Homo sapiens: one gene and its partner. The protein of the gene in region 1 interacts with the protein of each later gene in a biochemical or structural test. Each region holds a gene or a part of one and is shown in the gene's direction. Other genes may lie near its edges.

Region 1 (3,753 bases):
TCCCTGGACCCCACCCGAGGCCCCTGCAGTTCCTGCGTCCTGATGGCCCCTTGCACCACGCTCCACATGGCAGCTGGAGGGAGGAGGCTTGTCACAATGCCCGTTGTGCTATTTCAGCTTTGGTTATTTATCTTAAAGACAGATAATGCATTTGCGTGGTTGAAAATCAGGAGGTGAGAAGCCTCTGCCCTCTTCTTGGGTGTCCCCATCCCCGGAGGTGCTGTTCATGAGCTCCTGGAGGGGGCCTTCCAGAAAGGTTGATGCATACCACACATACCCTCCCCTTCCCGTTCGCACAAATGCAGTGTGCTCATGTCCCACTGTAAGGCAAAGCACACGGCGCCATCCCGTTCCATGGCCAAGGAGCGTCCCACAGTGTGGGCTGTGCTGGAACCTTCCAGCCAGCACCTCATGGACATCTGCATTGTTTACGGATTTTGCTGTCATAGACGTTGTATACCTCTGCACACGCTGTATGCTTCCAGGATGCTTTTCTTGGAAGTGGAATCATGGGGCATTGGAGCCTCGGGCTGACCATCTGGATCCATCCCACGGGGTCAGAGAGAGCTTCAGAAACAGAATCATGATGTCCCGCCTCCCACACTCACACATCCCACCGGGCTCCCCACCACAGAGCCCAGCGCAGTCTCCTTGGCGTGGCCTGTGGGGTGCAGCCTCTGATGCCTCCACCCATTCCCTTTTGCTCTAGCTGGAGTGCGACACCCCCCGACCCTGGGGTCCCTGTGGTTCCCTCCGCCAGGCTCTGTCCCTGGCTCTTCACCTGCCTGGCACCTGCTCACCTGTTGGCCCCATCCTAAATGCTGCTTTTGTGGGCATCTTCCCTGCCCACAAGGTGTGACTGTAGTTTCCCTGTGACCCCCTTGGTGCCACTTGTCCACGTTTATTTGCGTTTGGGTGATGTTCCCCTCCGCAGCCACAGCTGCATGTCATCCGGGAGCTGGGGCCTTTTTCTCACAGGGACCCAGCCCCTTCTCTCGCACCTGGCCTCTGTTAGGCCATCGGGAAATACCTGCTGAGGGAGCTGGTGAGACAGTGGCCCTGGGCCTCCAGCCCAAGAGGCACACATTGGCCGTGGGTGTGCACGGAATGCTGGCCCTGAGCACGGTCACAGTGGGTGGTTTCGGAGGCTTCCCCTGGACTTCTGGCCCAGGCTGCCCCCCGTTATCTTGGACATGCTTCATTTTTCCCATCCTCACGTAAACCCCTGCAACTCCTCCCTAGGAATTACAAAATGACCTAGACCGGGAAACAAGCAGTTTGCAGGAGCTCGAGGCTCAGAAACAGGATGCTCAAGACCGCCTGGACGAGATGGACCAGCAGAAGGCCAAGCTCCGAGACATGCTGAGCGACGTCCGGCAGAAGTGCCAGGATGAGACTCAGATGGTGGGTCCCGGCCACCTCCGGGGCAGCGCCCTATGCACAGGCAGGGGCTTCCCAAGGACTCCCCTGAGCTCGTGTTACCTGGGAACACAACACTTAGACATCCTACTGGGTCAATAGAGTTCCTCCAAACACCACGTGGAAAAGTGTCCAAGCACCTGTGGCTTGACTTCCTGGCCACCCCCCTGTACTCCTAGAAGTCAGGTTGTATAAGTGAATGGCCTTGGTCCCTGCGAACTTGTGCCCTGAACACACCCCACCTGGCTGTGCCCCACAACACAGGGAGTTCCAGGGTGCCTGTGTCCCCTCCTCAGGTGTCTCTGAGGCTCCTCACAGATCCCGGAGGCTGCAACCTCAGAAAACTCTATGACGTTCAGCCTCTGGGGGGATGGACAGATTGTTCGTGCTTGGTCATGCCCCTCATTATTCCAAAGTGATCTTCCGTTAGCCACAGTGGGATGAGCCCATCTGCCTTTTCATTTGTGTCTCTATTTTGGGTGTAGAAAGAGGCCTGTAAGGAAGCCAGGTGTCGGGCCTGGGTTAGGTGTCTGCGTCCCTGGCTTAGCTTGTTTCGGGGATGGGGGCTAAGAGTTCTTTCTCGGAGTCCCATTTCATCCTGCACTGTGAATCTCTTTAACATCTTTTAACATCTCATTTCAGATCTCATCACTGAAAACGCAAATCCAATCTCAGGAATCTGACTTAAAGTCCCAGGAAGACGATCTGAACCGAGCCAAGTCGGAGCTGAACCGATTGCAGCAGGAGGAAACCCAGCTGGAGCAGAGCATTCAGGCTGGGCGAGTCCAGCTGGAAACCATCATCAAGTCCCTGAAGTCAACGCAAGACGAAATCAACCAGGTACTTCACGGAGTCGGGTCCCTGCCACATGCCAGGGACCAGCGAGCCCCAAGAGCCGAGGCTGCCACTGCTGAACTCCTTTGCTCTCACCCTTGTTACTTACGTGAGGGTCTCTTTTGGGAGGCTGTGGTGCTGGCCTGGAGGCGCAGGGCCAAGGACTCCCCAGGGCATGTTCCAGAGTTTGTTGGCATTGGCCTGGAGGAGTTCACTTTCCTTTCCTGAGCACACAGCATCTTCAAGGAGTAGGCGGGGTGGGGTGGGAACACTTAATTAATGGCTCATTTGGAGAGAACTTGGGGTTCTTTCCAGCCTGGTCCTCACACAAACAAGAGGGACAAAGTCAGAGAGATGACTTCTTTGTCCTTGGGCAAGAGAACAGACGTCATCCTCCACAGCCACTGGTGTGTTCAGGAGGCGCCACCCTGGAGCATCACGCCATGCAGGACCCCCATTCTCTAAGCTGCCTGGGACGCCCCCACCCTCTTCCCAGTCCAGGGGGGGGCGCTGGCTTCTCGTGGCCTGCAGCCGTTGCCCTTCCCTGCTCTCCTGTGGGCAGTAGATGAAGGCCTCTGTCCTGGCCCTGGGCATCCAGTCTACACAGTGGTTGTGACACTGGCCCTCGCCTGTGTCGGAGTGGCCAGGCACACTTCTTTTACCAATTGAACTGGTCTCTGTCTGTGCTCCATTAGCCAGTTTATAGGCCACAGTTGATCGCAAGCATGGACCGCTCAGAGATTTACCACCCTTTCTTGTGCTTTATGGTTAATATCTGTAGGATTACTTTCAGTGTTTTCTCTTCTAACCCTTAGAGTTTGTAGTTGGGTGTCAGGAGCAAAGATATGTTGCTTTGCGCAGTGCAGTGCCTTACACCTGTCATCCCAGCACTTTAGGAGGCTGAGGCAAGAGGATCACTTGAGGCCAGGAGTTCAAGACCAGACTGGACAACATAGCGAGACCCCATCTCTACAAAAAATACAGAATTTTTTTTGTATTTTTTGCAGAGATGGGTCTTGGTTTGTTGCCCAAAAATATAGGTGGTGACACGCACCTGTAGTCCCAGCTACTCAGGAGGCTGAGGCAGGAGGAGCTCCTGAGGTCAGGAGCTCAAGGCTACAGTGAGCTATGATCACTCCACTACATTCCAGTCTGGGTGACAGAGTGAGACCCTGTGTTTTAAAAAAAAAAAGCGTCTTTTCTGACATGTTTTCCTGACCCTGCTTAATGCTGATGATGTCTTTGTTGCACAGGCAAGGAGCAAACTTTCCCAGCTGCATGAAAGCCGCCAGGAGGCCCACAGGAGCCTGGAGCAGTATGACCAGGTGCTCGATGGAGCCCATGGTGCCAGCCTGACCGACCTGGCCAACCTGAGCGAAGGCGTCTCCCTGGCAGAGAGGGGCAGTTTTGGAGCCATGGTAAAGGTTGAATAAACGTATTACAGTATGGGGCTCTGGTCCCCTGGTGTGACAGCAGAACATCCCACCCGCCAGATCTGTT
Region 2 (3,753 bases), on another chromosome or scaffold:
TGTGGCATTATAAGGAAACATGTATAATCAAGTTCATACAAGCTATACACAGTAGGCATCGATAAATTTGTATTGACAGCATAAACTTCTAGGGATGAGATTTGGGAATATACATTTTGATAAGTGCTCCAAATTTGAGAATCATTGCTCTAGTAGATCTCTAAGGTCCTTCTTAGTTCTGACATTATATCAGATTTTAAGCATTAAATTCTAAGATGAAAACCATTTTTCTAGTCAGTTTATTTTTCATTCAGTCCACTTAATTTCCTCCAATCTTAAAAAATTTTTTTCCCTAGGAAAATCCCTATCTTTTTCTTAAAGTTACTCTGTTATACTATCTCAGTCTCAAAGTAGCCTGAAATGCATTTTCTCATTTTCATATTTCTGTCCTTTTCTTCAATGTCTTAAAAGACTTGAAGTAGAAGGGAAGTTGCAAGCTGTTATTTATTCAAATACAAAATCCTAATCAATGTTTCCTTCTTTGCAAGGGACATTCAGATCTCTAACTTGTGAGTTGAACCTATTTATTTTGTAAGCTTTTGACTTTACAAACATGTGGTAGCCTCATTCTAAAAGAGTTGCACGAATATTTTTTCTCAAAATAACCACAGGCTGTAAATTAAATTGAACAATACAGTAGAATATGCAGATACATACTAAACAGATGAGTGTGTGTGTATGTGTCTGTGTTTAAGCTTTTCCTTTTCCAAAAGATTATACATTTGAGCAAAATCCCATTCAGTCTAAATGTACTCATTTTGCCACATGGTTTTCTGATCAGCAATTTTTTTAAAAAATGGAAGTGTTACATTATATTTAATAATATCAAAACAAGAGTGATCTCTAAATATAGCTTTGAAAGTTAATATAATATGATGTGTCCATGCAATGAGTCAAATTAGATTGTTGATATAAATGAACAAATCAATCCAAGTTACATTGATTAAAGGGACTATTTGGATGACCAGCCTCACCATCTTTTACTGTGTGCACTTTCCTCTTAAGGTTTTATTGTATTTTCCCTGCTCCTTTAGGCTTTTTTTTCATGTGGAAAACAGTATCTAAATGCCATTCTCTCACTTATGAATTAAATATGGCTACCATTAATGTTCCTTTTTGTCAGTGGAGTGTATGGAAGGAAAATGAGATAGGAGTACATTGCTTAAGTCTCTAAATATTAAAAACAACAACAAAACACTTGCCTTTCTCTTGTGTCATTGCTTCAATGTTCTGTCATCTTCTGCAAGCTAGAGTTGCACTGCTGACATCTAATTAAGATCTAAATATATTTCATGAAGGAATGTCAAATGTAAAGTCTGTTGAGTTGACCATGGTGAACCTCTTGATTGGCCCTCACATTTAATATCTGATTTCTCTCCTAAATGGGTATGTCTATGAGGAAAAGACACCTATTTGTTGGCATTGACCATGGGTATAATAATTTATTCTCTAGGTTTAACTTCTAAAATTATTTTTCCTTTGATTTCTAACTGCCTCCTTCTATCCCTAGAGTAATACCTTGCCTACCTTAAATACATCTTTATCCTTGTAAAAAATGTTTTGGCAAAAAACAAATATATTTTTAAATGTCCCGTAATGTTTTAAAGAAAAGAAGTAAAGTGTATTTGGGCTATGCTCACCAATATTCCAGTATTTTACAAATTGTGTTCTGGAAGATGTTCATTGTGGTCTGAGAACAAATGGTCCTATACTATAATTCTCTCTCCTTGGACATTGACAATAAATGTTAGTGTTTTAATGAAGCTTAAGAAAGTTATTGAATCAGGTAAAAAAAATTTTTTCTAAGCACACCTTGAGAAACCTTTGGAAAAGTTTTCTTTTAACACTAGTTTATATATCCTTCAATAATTGTAAATAAAATAACCAGGAATGCTTTGAAAAAAATGCTTCTGGAATTTTGTTTTAATTTTAAGAGAATTCCTGTCATTTCAAATGAATTGTTATCTATTTTAAATTTCATTAGTATCTCTTAGTGAATTTAACTTTATCATCTAAAATATTCAAAACAAAACAATAAAATTATTTTAATTTTTGTATTATTTTTAAGGCTTGCACCTATGACCAGCATATCAGACCCCTATCTGTTGAAGATGTTTCCAATTCTTTGCCGTGTGGAATTAATGCCAGTGAATAATCTCCAGTAACGTTTTACTAAACAGCTTTAGGAAACTGAATCATGATAGATCAATGTTGACAGTATTTTTACATCAGCTTGTCAGAAATTATATTAAAAACACTTTGGGGAAAGCTAAGAGCAGTGCACTGTTTAGCACAGATTTTGTGAGATTCTATACTCTTTTAATGAGCATTTCATAGGGTTTTTTTTTTGCTGTTTTTTTTTCTTTTTTTGCTTTGCTTTACTTTGCCAATCAGTTACTTTTATACCAAATTAACGAAGTTTCTTTAAAAACTTCCTGGTTAAATTGTCTGTTATCATATAGAAAAGAATCAAACTGAATCACTTTACATTTCTCTAAAGATAGTTCAGTTTTTAATCCATCCAGAGTTTGTGAATCAGCCTGATAGATCATAAGCCATTTATAATTTTTAAACGTTCCATTGAATGAGTATATCATACAAATGTTAATTCCATCTCGCTCATTCAGTTTTACATTACTTTTATGAATTTTTTTTCTCGCAAAGTAAATGCTTGATGTTATTCATTCACCATCACTCTAAGGTATTTTAAATCATACAACAAGTAACTATCACAAGAACCACTGTCCCAAGATCCAAAGTCAGATTTTTTTCCCTTTTCAAGTTGCTAGAATGATAATTCATATAGCTGTGTTGATTTTTCAGGTCAGAATTTAGTTCTTGCTTTGTTAAATGGACATACATGAAAGAGATTGGCTCCTATCTAATTCATATTCTCTCTCTCTCTCTCTCTCTTTCTCTGTGTGTGTGTGGGGGTGTGTGTGTGTGTGTGTGTGTGTGTGTGTGTCTCTTTCCTCTCTGTCTAAGGGGAATTGGAAAATTGCTGCTGAATAATTTTTCTTGAAAAAGCCAAGTGTTGATATGATGATATATTAATCTTATCTATGAACAGAGCTTCACCACAGGCCAAGCAGTAATGTATACAGCTGGCTTTTTAAGCTGTTTGAACACTATTGTTTTCGATTAAAAAGAGTTTTTGTTTGTTTTTCACTTGTATAGTAAAAGATCATATGAATTAAATACTCGGATATTAATTTTCATTCTTACTAAGTGGCCATGTAAGGCATTGATTTTTTTTAAACTTGAACAATGCAAGAATCTAGGAATCTCAGAAAGATTTTGCTGTGTTTCTATAGGTAATGAAATCCTGTCAATTAAGGAAAATGCTGTGTGTAATTTGATTTGGTGGTAGCCTTTATTTAGAGCTCTCTTTGATCTATGTAGCAAAAATACACTAAATTTCTTTTTAATCTTGTACTAAGTACATAATTTCACAAAAATACCTTGGGCATAAAATACTTACAAAACTGTGAATTAAAATACTCAAGATACTTTCAAAATTTAGTCAAAATGTTGATTCCCAGCCTTTTTCCTACACGTCTATTTCAAAAGAGTATACTTTTTTCTGACAGCCATTACTGCTTAGTCTGTAATGAAAGCTTTACTGCTTCTATGCTGTGCTCAAGAGAAAACCAACAACGGAAGCGAAGACTTACTTGCTCCTTCACAGAATTGCAGCAAAGCTCTCTGCTGGGCAATGGTGACAGGAAAGTGTGTAATTGACTTGTTGAAGAT

The links. The genes of interacting proteins can lie anywhere in the genome.
Region 2: the proteins of EPS15L1 (region 1) and SGIP1 form a complex in vitro, tested with the Homo sapiens proteins (one study listed by BioGRID).

The regions. Positions count from the first base shown.
Region 1 is NC_000019.10:16,402,239-16,405,991, reverse strand, and holds part of EPS15L1 (epidermal growth factor receptor substrate 15-like 1), read left to right. Parts: intron 1-1,242; coding exon 1,243-1,404; intron 1,405-2,061; coding exon 2,062-2,259; intron 2,260-3,506; coding exon 3,507-3,671; coding exon of another isoform or gene 3,672-3,686; exon of another isoform or gene 3,687-3,753.
Region 2 is NC_000001.11:66,747,104-66,750,856, forward strand, and holds part of SGIP1 (SH3-containing GRB2-like protein 3-interacting protein 1), read left to right. Parts: 3' UTR 1-3,753.